3 linked regions of the Homo sapiens genome follow. The protein of the gene in region 2 interacts with the protein of the main gene of each other region in a biochemical or structural test. Each region holds a gene or a part of one and is shown on either strand. Other genes may lie near its edges.

Evidence for each region.
Region 1: the proteins of PBK (region 2) and INTU interact in a test that uses a peptide from one of them, tested with the Homo sapiens proteins (one large-scale study listed by IntAct).
Region 3: the proteins of PBK (region 2) and SIPA1L1 interact in a test that uses a peptide from one of them, tested with the Homo sapiens proteins (one large-scale study listed by IntAct).

The regions. Positions count from the first base shown.
Region 1 is NC_000004.12:127,723,339-127,726,995, forward strand, and holds the end of INTU (protein inturned), read left to right. Parts: 3' UTR 1-3,399; downstream 3,400-3,657. UniProt on the Homo sapiens protein: Plays a key role in ciliogenesis and embryonic development.
Region 2 is NC_000008.11:27,824,250-27,827,906, reverse strand, and holds part of PBK (lymphokine-activated killer T-cell-originated protein kinase), read left to right. Parts: intron 1-3,657. UniProt on the Homo sapiens protein: Phosphorylates MAP kinase p38. Seems to be active only in mitosis. May also play a role in the activation of lymphoid cells.
Region 3 is NC_000014.9:71,582,389-71,586,045, forward strand, and holds part of SIPA1L1 (signal-induced proliferation-associated 1-like protein 1), read left to right. Parts: intron 1-3,657.

The sequences.
Region 1 (3,657 bases), on a different chromosome or scaffold from region 2:
GCAGAGCAGAGCTGCCTCTCTTTGACCATCTGGGCTCTCTGTTCTACTTTTTTTTTTTTTTTTTTTGCCTCTTGCATGTTGGTCACCTCCTAAATTAGTAATGTCCAAGTACTTATTCCTTATCAGATACTTTTCGTTAATTTAACTATCCTAGTACATACCTCACTGTGGGGAAAGGGGGAAAGATGAAAATTAAACTTACTTTTTATTTATTTGATTCTCTTTAAGTTTCAGGTAAGCTCAATTTTGACTAGGATATATATATGTGTGTGTGTGTATATATATGTATTTTTTAAACTATTTGTCAACTTTATTTTTTTTTGTTTGTTTTTGTTAAAATACATTCAGCGGCTGGGCTTAGTGGCTCACGCCTGTAATCTCAACACTTTGGGAGGCTGAGGCAGGTGGATCACTTGAGTCCAGGAGTTCAAGACCAGCCTGAGCAACATAGCAAAAACTCCATCTCTACAAAAACACCAAAATTAGCCGGGTGTGGTAGCACTCTCTTTTAACAGTCCCAGATACCTGGGAGGCTGAGGTGGGAAGATCACCTGAGCTCAGTCGGTTGAGGCTGCAGTGAGCTATGATCATGCCACTGCACTCTAGCCTGGGCAACACAGTGAGACCCTGTCTCAAAAAAAAAAATCACATTCAAGTATATTTCACATGCATTTTATATAATTCATGAATTTCAGGAAAGCTGCATGTAAATCTTTTTTTAAAGCTAAATCATGTTAAAGACACTGAAAAAGTTAACTAAAATTCTATGGTGACTTCTTTTATAAAATACTAATTTTTGGCCGGGCACGGTGGTGGCTCACGCCTGTAATCCCAGCACTTTGGGAGGCCGAGGCAGGTGGATCATGAGGTCAGGAATTCGAGACCAGCCTGACCAACATGGTGAAACCCCATCTCTACTAAAAATACAAAAATTAGCTGGGCGTGGTGGTGTGCACCTGTAATCCTAGCTACCTAGGAGGCTGAGGCAGGAGAATCGCTTGAACCCAGGAAGCAGAGGTTGCAGTGAGCCAAGATCACACCACCGCACTTCTGCCTGTGGAACAGAATGAGACTCCGTCTCAAAAAAAAAAAAAAAAATACTAACTTTTATCTTAGAAATATAGATCATTATGCATTGGGTTTTTTCAAAGGGGGAACACTTTAGTGAACAATAGTTTACTTGACCTTTAGTTGGAAAAGAAAACTAATGGTGGAGAATTTTCTTTGGCTGGGAGAATTTGGTAGATTGAGAGAAAGGAAGAACATCAATACTGCATTTTTACTTGACATTTACCCTGTAGATCCTCCTAGAGGTTCGATGCCCCCAAGACATTCCAACACTGAGCTGTTTCTTCTCCAGGTCTTAAGCTTTGAATACAAGCTATACCAGCACATCTAAAATCGGTCTCTACATTTTTCCATCTTAAATATGAGCTGTCCAGCTTAGTCAAAACTAACTGCAAAACACTGGGTGTACCATTTGAGTCATTTGGTCTTAAAAGAAACACTATTATCACTGTGTCACAGTTTGAGAGATTTTCACTTAAGCATTTAAGTTGCAAACCACTACATATTTGTCCCATTAGTGACTAGTGGGCCTTAATTTTGGCATTCAAATTAGGGTAAAAAACCTTGGTTCTTGAAATGCTACAGAAAATAGCTTGAGGCCAGGCACAGTTGCTCACACCTGTAACTCCAGCACTTTGGAAGGCTGAGGCAGGCAGATCACTTGAGGTCAGGCGTTTGAGACCAGGCTGGTCAACATGGTGAAACCCTGTCTCTACTAAAAATACTAAAAAAAAAAAAAAAAAAAAAAAAATTAGCCGGGCATGGTGGCAGGTGCCTGAAGTCCCAGCTACTTGGGAGGCTGAGGCAGGAGAATCACTTGAACCCAGGAAGCAGAGGCTGCAGTGAGCCTAGCTCGTGCCACTGCCACTCCAGCCTGGGCAACAGAACGAGGCTCTGTTTAAAAAACAAAAAAGCTTGAAATACCTTCCCCTTAAGATCACAATATTGTCATATGCTACCATTTGACTCACAACTGCTGTCTTAGGACTGCTTATTTACATATATATGTATTAAGACACTTTGGTTAAAACAATTTATTAAATGTCTTAAATTTCTGGATATGTCCCTGAAAATACCATGAACTACTTCTAATACTGATAATTATGAATAAACGTAGCTGTTGATCACCTCAGGTTTTCATACAAACTGAACTAAGGTAGGGTTTTATCATAGGGGACTTTTTGTTTCATTTAATGAAATTTTGATGTGTTGAACTGCTTTCCTGGTGTCAGAGAAACATGAGACCATCGCTCAATAATGGAAATAAAAAGGCAGAGCAGACTACTGATCTTAATAAAAGGAAAATTATTTGCTGTATCGTAGATGTGCACTGTAATTTCCATGTTAAAGAGGCACTGCATTTTTAAGAAATAAAATCACACATCTTATTTTTTCATTTCTAAATGGATATTGAACTAAGCTCTGAAGGCAAACTTAGCTGCCTATTTTTCCAAATATGTTCAGAATCACATCTGAAACATCAAACTGATTATCAGACAATAAAGTGCCTGTTACTTTATTAAATAAAGGGGGACAGGATGACAGTGCAGATATCCTAGAAATATGCTTTAGAAGACATAGAAACGTTGTTAAATTGGATTTTATTAGTATGCAAATGTTCCCTTCCACCAACAACTATTAATGTGAAAAACTATATATAGCTAGCATTTTTTAAAATATCAAATACTGTCTCATTATCATATGTTTAGCCCCCCCAAAATTACATTTTAGACTCTTACTTTCTCTCCCTCTCCCCTTTCTTTAGCTCTTGTTTGTGTCTTGCCAAAGAAGTGTACCTAGTAAGGGAATGTTTCTTATTTGTGCCAAGGGACTATTGATGATGCTGTATAATGGCAAGATAGCATTTTGTAATACCTGCTTTTTTATATTTCTAATACAAATGGGCAAAGCTGTGAAACCAATTTACTAGGTTTTTCTGCTTTGGACATAATTGTATGTGTTAATTCTCTCTAAACAGTGCCTGGCACATATTACATGCTATAAAAGTGTTAGCTACTACTGCTACCATTTATTATTATCATTATTAAATATCCATTGGTTGAAAAACCAAGTAGTCAGCTAAATCATACCTGCTACTGTACAAAATGTAGGGGAAAAGCTGAGAAAAATCATTTATCAATAAACAGTTTTCAGAACAAGAATTTATACTTTGGATATTTTTAAATTGTTAAATGTTATTGAAACTTTATGCACCAAAACTGTATGAAATAATTTAATTTTGCAGTTGTGTTTCTATATTCTATGTAATTAAAGCTACTTTTATACTATATTGATAGTTTTAAATAAAACTGGTTTGGAGGTTTGTTTGCAGTTGTATTGCCTTTTTCATGCATTCATCCAACATGTATTTATTGCATTTCTACCCTGTGCCAAGCGCTGATGTGGAGGCAGAGGCTATAGCAATGAATAAAACAGCTAAAAATTCCTGCCCTCATGGAGTTTATGTTCCAATGGGAGAGGCATACCACAGACAAGATAAATAAGTAAAATATGTAAATGCTGAGAGAAAAAATCGTAAAGCAAGAGAAGGGGATGTAAGATGTGGCAGACAGGGTGACCAAGGAAAGG
Region 2 (3,657 bases):
CCTGATGGGTTATTAAAGGGGAAGTCATTTACTTTTTAATTTTTCCTTGGCTTCCATAAGAAGGGGAAGTGGCAGGGGAAAGGGTTCCTTTGTGGTAATTAAACCAGATTCTTCATGAGAAAACCTCAAAGAGGAAGCCAGTATTGGGTGATGTCAGTGACTGCTGTCTTTTCTGCAGCGTTGCCCTCCTAAGATATGCTCTTCTAAAAGAAGTAAAAGATTTTCATTTCTTATGGCATTGTTATTAAGAAGGGTAAATACATGATTTTAAAGTAGGAATATTGTGTTAAGAAAAATGAAATAATCGAACAAGTATGGTGCCAATATAGCTGTCAACAAAGTGTTTTTTTAAATTACTTTTTTATTATTCATATATTTTTTTGAAACAGAGTCTCACTCTGTTGACCAGGCTGGAGTGCAGTGGCACGACCTCCCAGGTTCAAGCGCTTCTCCTGCCTCAGCCTCCTGAATAGCTGGGATTACAGGCGTGTACCATCACACCCAGCTAATTTTTGTATTTTTAGTAGAGACAGGGTTTTGCCATGTTGGCCAGGCTGGTCTCGAACTCTGGCCTCAAGCGATCTGCCCGCCTTCGCCTCCCAAAATGCTGGGATTACAGGTGTAAGCCACCATGCCCAGCCCAAAATTACTTCTTTTAATCATTACTCTGTACCTAGTTTCATGTTTATTAAGTGGCAAACAACTACATCAATATATATTCCTTAATGCATTCTTGGAATCAGTCTAACTAGTCCAACCCTCCGTATCTTAGCTTCATCTAGGTTTACATTGTTTCCAGATAGAAATGCTTTCTTTAATAAGAGGCTAATTAAGAATAATTTAGTAATTATATACAATGGGTATTCCTGAAGCATTTTTGCAGTTTAAACATTTTTTTTGTATGTTTGTATGGTATTGTTTTCTAATTTGTTTTTTAGTGTTAACTCCTATTTTGAAAGAAAAAAATTCTCACAGGTTTATGGCTAGTTTCATTTTTTTCCCCCTTTTTAAAAAAAGTTTTTAAATGTAAAGTGTTTTTAACAAAGTTACACTGTATGTGGTTTAGTCAAAAAGCTTCAAATAGCTGATCTTTTTTTTTTTTTTTTTTTTTGAGACGGAGTCTCGCTCTGTCGCCCAGGCTGGAGTGCAGTGGCGCGATCTCGGCTCACTGCAAGCTCCGCCTCCCTGGTTCACGCCATTCTCCTGCCTCAGCCTCCCGAGTAGCTGGGACTACAGGCGCCCGCCACCACGCCCGGCTAATTTTTTGTATTTTTAGTAGAGACGGGGTTTCACCGTGTTAGCCAGGATGGTCTCGATCTCCTGACCTCGTGATCCGCCCGCCTCGGCCTCCCAAAGTGCTGGGCAAATAGCTGATCTTGAAGAACAGCAGTGCCTGCCTGACCCTACACTCCTCCTGATTCAGCCCTGTCAACCTGGGATTTCTTTTATCCATAACCTGCAAATTTCCTATGCTTCTCTGCTGAATTATATCCTGTGTTTTTAGGTATCTTGTGTCTTATTATTTCTTGATTTACATCCCGTTTTCATTTAGGACATCTGGTAGCTCCCCATGAATCGGTGCACAGAAGATATATTTTTTTGAGAATTTGCATTTCCAAAAATGTTTTCATTTTACTCATACTTGAATGGCCCTTTTTGGTTTTCTGGGTTACAATTCTCATTTGGAAACAATTTCCCTCCAGAATTTTGAGAATATCAGTCACTGACATTGTTTTTTTTCTAGCTTACACTGTTGCTGTTGAGAATTATGAAGCCTTTTTGACTGCTAATTCTTCATATGTAATCCGTTTTATGTTATCTGTCCCCCCCACTGTCCTGGATCCTGGTATGATCTTCTGTATGTCGGTAGCATTCTGAAATTTCACAATGACATGAGTGGATGTGGGGATCTTGGAATCTGAATAGTTCCTGTTCTTAAATTTCTGAGACATTATTTTAAAAATTACTTTGTTGATGATTTTCACCTCTTTTTCTCTGTTCTCCATCTGGAATCCAATTATTTGAATGTTGAACTTACTGATTTCTCATCTACCTCTTTTTTGCTTGGTTTTCTTATTCGCTATCTTTTTTCTGAGATTTCCCCAGCTTTATCTTTCAACAATTCTATTGAGTTTTTATCTTGTTTTTAATTAATTATCTTTTTAAAAATAGCATCTTTAGTCTCTTGGAGTGCTAGAAATGTTCGGTATCTAGGTGTTGATAACACAGGTATATGCACATGTAAAAACTCATTGAGCATTTAGTATGCATATGGTGATTAATTATTAACCTGCTTCTGTATTACAGGTTCTCAACTGACAGTAAACCTCAGGCTAAAGACTTGTTTTATACCTTCCAAAGCTAGTCTACCATCTTTAGAAGCTGGGGAAGGGGGGTGGGCAGCTGCCAGTTGGTACAGAATTAAGGAGGGTATCTACGAGTCCACCTGTTTTTTACCATTATTATTTAGAGACAGGGTCTCATTTTGTTGCCCAGGCTGGAGTGCAATGGTGCCATCATAACTCACTGCAGCCTCAAACTCCTTGGTTTGAGCAATCCTCCTGCCTCAGCCTCCCAAGTAGCTGGGACTACAGGCGTGGGCCACCACATGTGACTTTTAAAAGTTTTTTGTAGAGAAGGGGTCTCACTATATTGCCCAGGCTGGTCTCAAACTCCTGGTCTCAAGTCATCCTCCTGACTTGGCCTCCCAAAGTGTTGTGATTATAGTTGTGTGCTAACCCTTCCAGGCCTACGTGCTTTTTAAATAACTTGCAAGCAGTTCATTGGGGCTAAGTCAGTTACTTTCTTCTGCTTTCCAGCTTCTGAAATTTTGTTGCTGTTGTCTCTTCTGCTGTTATTTCCATTCTTGCTGGCTTGTATGTCTAAAAAATATCCATTTGCTATTATGTTAGTGGGCTTGGAAAGGATAAAAACAATGTGTATGTTTAAGCTACAATTTTAACCCAGAAGTCTATATTTTTTTTGTTAAATCAAGTTTGCATTTCTTGGTTAAATCCAACATAGTTTTGATGTAGTATTTTTAAATAAACTGATGGATTCAGTTTGCTAATATTAAAGTTTATTTCAATTTTTGCATCTGATATAAGTGAAGTTGGCTTGTGGTTTTCCTTTTTCTACTGTCCCTTTTGATTTTTTAAAATTAAAGTTATATGAGACTCATAGTACCTTTTCTGTTCCCTGGGGAAACAGTTTGTATAAGATTGAATGGTAAATTCTTTGAAAGCTTAGTAAACTCACCTGTAAAATCATCTGCACTTTGTATTTCTAGTAGGAACATTTTAAACTGGTGATTAAATTTCTTCATTCATCAGTTTTCTTAGATTTTTCTAAGTCTTTGACCATTTTGTCTTAAATGATTGCATAAAGATTTTATTTACTTACATATTTTTTCTCTTGTATCTGTAGTTTTGTTTCCATTTTTATTTGTGATATTGTCTTTATTTTTTCTTGTGTAATCTCATCAGAAATTTGCCTTTTTTCTATTAGTCTTTTTAATGAACCAGCTTTTTGCATGGTTGAGTATTCAGATTTCATAAATCTATTCTTATTCGATAGATTAGAATATGTTATGGAAAAGGTGAAGATTGACTTGTTTACTAAATTCTAAACTTTCAAGAGCTAAACTTTCAACCCTTG
Region 3 (3,657 bases), on a different chromosome or scaffold from region 2:
TTTATCATTCTTCTGCCCTCAAGCTTTCTGCCAAACTTTTGTGTTCTTTCCTTCACCTTCAGCTATACAAACTATATTCAAGCTTAACAAAACCTTAGAAGCGTAACTTTCTTCACTGAACTTTTTTAGCTACGAGGGTGAGTGGGAGGGAAATGTGATTTTCCTTTTTGATCCTTCCTGTGTCCAAACAGGCACATTTTAAGTTGCTTTCTTATCTCTAAATTCAAATACAGCTTTATCATGTTACATGTTTTGTATCTATAACTTTTCTATTCACTTTGTTAATTTTACCAAAAGTTTTTTTGACTCGACTTTGTTTCCATCAGTGTTGTCTCTTTCAGAGAGTGAACATTAGGAGAGCAGGAACTAGATTTATCAACTGTTTTTCTCAACTCTTCCTGCTTTTTGTTGAAGGGAGAATACAGAAATGAAAGGAGGTAGAAATTCCATTCTAAAAAGTTTTACGCTGATTCATAAATCTTAAATTATCCATGACATTGCACTAAGATGTGTTTCAGGCTAACTTGAAAGAGTGAGCCATCCCTTCTGTCTGAGATGCAACTTTTATGTAATGTGAGTGGAATTCAGGAAAGCCAAGAAGGGATGTAAAGAAAATAGTTTGCCTTATTTGATTATCTTAGCTCATCTAATATTCAAGTACTGTGAAGTTATATTTCTGTTTTTAAATAGTGTTTTATTACATTCTGAAGTAAGAATATTTACAGGCATTCTAAGTCTGTGTTTACAAGTTCAAAAACTATTTCTATTTTTTTGTTGTTTGTTTAAGAGCCTGGGTATTACCATGTTACCTAGGCTGGTCTCAAATTCTTGGGCTCAAGCCATCTGCCTGCCTTGGCCTTCTAAAGTGCTGGGATTACAGGCACAAGGCACTGTGCTGGGCCTGGAAATTTTCATAAATACTTCTGAAGTGTATATCTCTGAATTATTGGGGCATTTGAATAGTTATTCATCAGCACAGTTCCTTCTACTGCCCTGAAACATTGAGAGCTGGCGTTGTATTTTAGGCTGTACCAGTTAAAGAATCTGAGAAGATCTCATTTTGGAATGTGGAAGTATTTTATGAGGAACGCTACATCTTTCTGGTGACCCTACCATATTGCACTGTAATTCTTTCACAACAGGAACTGTAGTGTTCCCCCAACCCCACCCCCTTCCCACATCTTCTTCTTGTAACCTTTAAACTGCTCTTTATGCCCTTGGCACGATGTTGTTTCTTTCATTCTATTCCTTGAATTAGGAATAGAATGTGCTCCCTTCCTTACCACTTAATCATTTCTTGAAAAAAAATTTTTTTCATTATTCTGCTTGTTGGTTATTTCATTGTAAAATAGGTAAATAAAGAAGATGTCAAATGAGCACCTACCTCTATTTTATCTGAAGTTTAGTGGAGAAGATCATGACCAGAGATTTGGAGGTAACAGCATAGAGATGATATTTAAAGCTGCAGGCACCTACAGTATCAACAGACAGAGTACTGGTTGCCATGCAGATTTCCAGCCAGTAACTTAATTATTCTGCCTTTGTTCAGCTGCACAGACAAATGTGAGCCAGCCCAATCAACACTCTGCTTTCCACAGTGATATTATTACTCCAGTGGACCCATGCTTCTGTCTCATCCTAATACACTCAGTGCTCACATGCATCCTGATAGAAATACCTTTTATACCCCTTTCCAGAAATATGAAAAATGTCAAGAGAGATAAACCATAGACACCACCTTTTCAATGGACCCCAACTAAAGACTGAGTAGTGGGCAAAAAGAGGCAAGAGAAAATGAAGAAGCACATGGTTATCACAGAGGTCCAGAAAAGAGAGGTTCAGGATGGAGGATGGGTTCAGGAGTACAGATGCTTCACAGAGCCAGAATGACAAGGGATTTTTGGCAATCAAGAGATCCCATAAGAGGTTCTGCTTTCAGCATTCTCAGGGACTTGATATTCTAAATGGCTGACCTACTGTGGTACAATTAGTCCCAGCAGGAGATTGTAAGCTCTGTTATTAAAGAGCTTACAATCAAAATGGAAAGTGTATAGGAAGGAGGCATGACCCATGCATCCCCCGTCATCTTCTTACTTGTCTGTGTCTCCCTGCTACACCTGGAGCTTTCCTTGAAGGAGGGACTGGTGGATGTATGGTCCATGCTCTGAAGACACTACAGAAACACAGGGGGTGATTTGGATGAGAGGAGGAAGCATTTCTTCTGGAAGAATGGTGGGTTAGGTTGTGAGAGATCTTGAGTGATGAAAAGACTTTCAACTAGTTGAATTGAACTCATTGAACTAAACTGTGGGCCCTCTAGATGGAATTAGTATTCTAGCTACCTGGATCTACCATAGACTTAGATAGTATCTAGAGCTGTAAAATTAAACATGTAATAAGGAAAATTTTTATATAGCCTGCTCTTTCAACAGATGGAGGTGACATGCTGTGAATTCGTATTGCTCTTCTGTTTAATTCTATTGCTTTTTACCATATTGGTACTTAGGCAGGTTTGCTGATATTTAAGAGAGTTGCTGATCATTGTCAACATAGGTTTGCTGTTTCAGTCAACCCTAAGGAATAGATGTGAAGGTATTATTGATCTGTCATCATATGATACACATCGATGGACAGCATTATTTTTGACTGGTAGTTTAATAAGTGCAAAGCATGTATATTTCCATATATGCTAGTCAGTGCCCAAAGTTTATATTGTACCCCAAAGGGGTTTGATGCTATAAATAAGAATGAGAAAAGGGAGGGAGGGAGGGAGGGAGATGGAAAATGAGAGGGAGAAAAAAAAAACATAGAAAAGGAAGGTCCTTATGACTGAAAAAAAATCTGTTATTTAACATAATTGCCCATCTCGAACCTCATCAGTTTTTACAAGCCATTAAAACGTGGCTTCTCTCTCTCCCATGTGCTTATTTATATTTTGAAATGAAAAGAAAACATTGAGTCGTTGTTATATAATGTAATGGGAGTCTTGAAATTTCTTTTGAATTGGTAAGAAATTTTTATATTTAAAAATAAGATTTTATAAACTCATTAAAAATATTGGAAGTATATGAGATGGTTTGGAAGAGAAATACTGATGGTGGAGACTGAGCATTTCCAAGTCAGTTTTATTTCTTGTATTTTACTGCCAGCTTTTAGTTTCCTCCTCTAATGGAAATAACTTCACATATCCTGGGAAAGACAGCTGTGCAGTAAAGTATTTTCTAAGGCACATGAAATGTGGCAAGAGTTTTTATCATGGTGGGATTGGTGTGTTGTCCTTTTAGAGAATGAATGTTTGGGGAATGAAAGATGATTTATTTGGATTTCTGTGAGGTTGTGAGAAATGTTGAAAGCATCTAATTTTTATAAAATCTACTTTAGAAGTATTATTTATGCTATGTAGAGTATTCATTGAAATAATCAGCTTTTGGGGAGATGTTGAACAGGTGTTTGCATTTTGGTTCAGTTGTTCAATTTTCCTTCCATTTTATGAGAATCACTTCTTGAACCTTTGCTATGGCCATATATGCTGTCCTTTGATATCCTCGGAAGCAACAGTTAGCATGTTTTGTCACTTGAAGGGTTATCATTGAAAGAGGAACATGTAAAGTTCTGGAATGTAAAGGGAATAATAGCAGTCTGACAGTAGAAGTATCT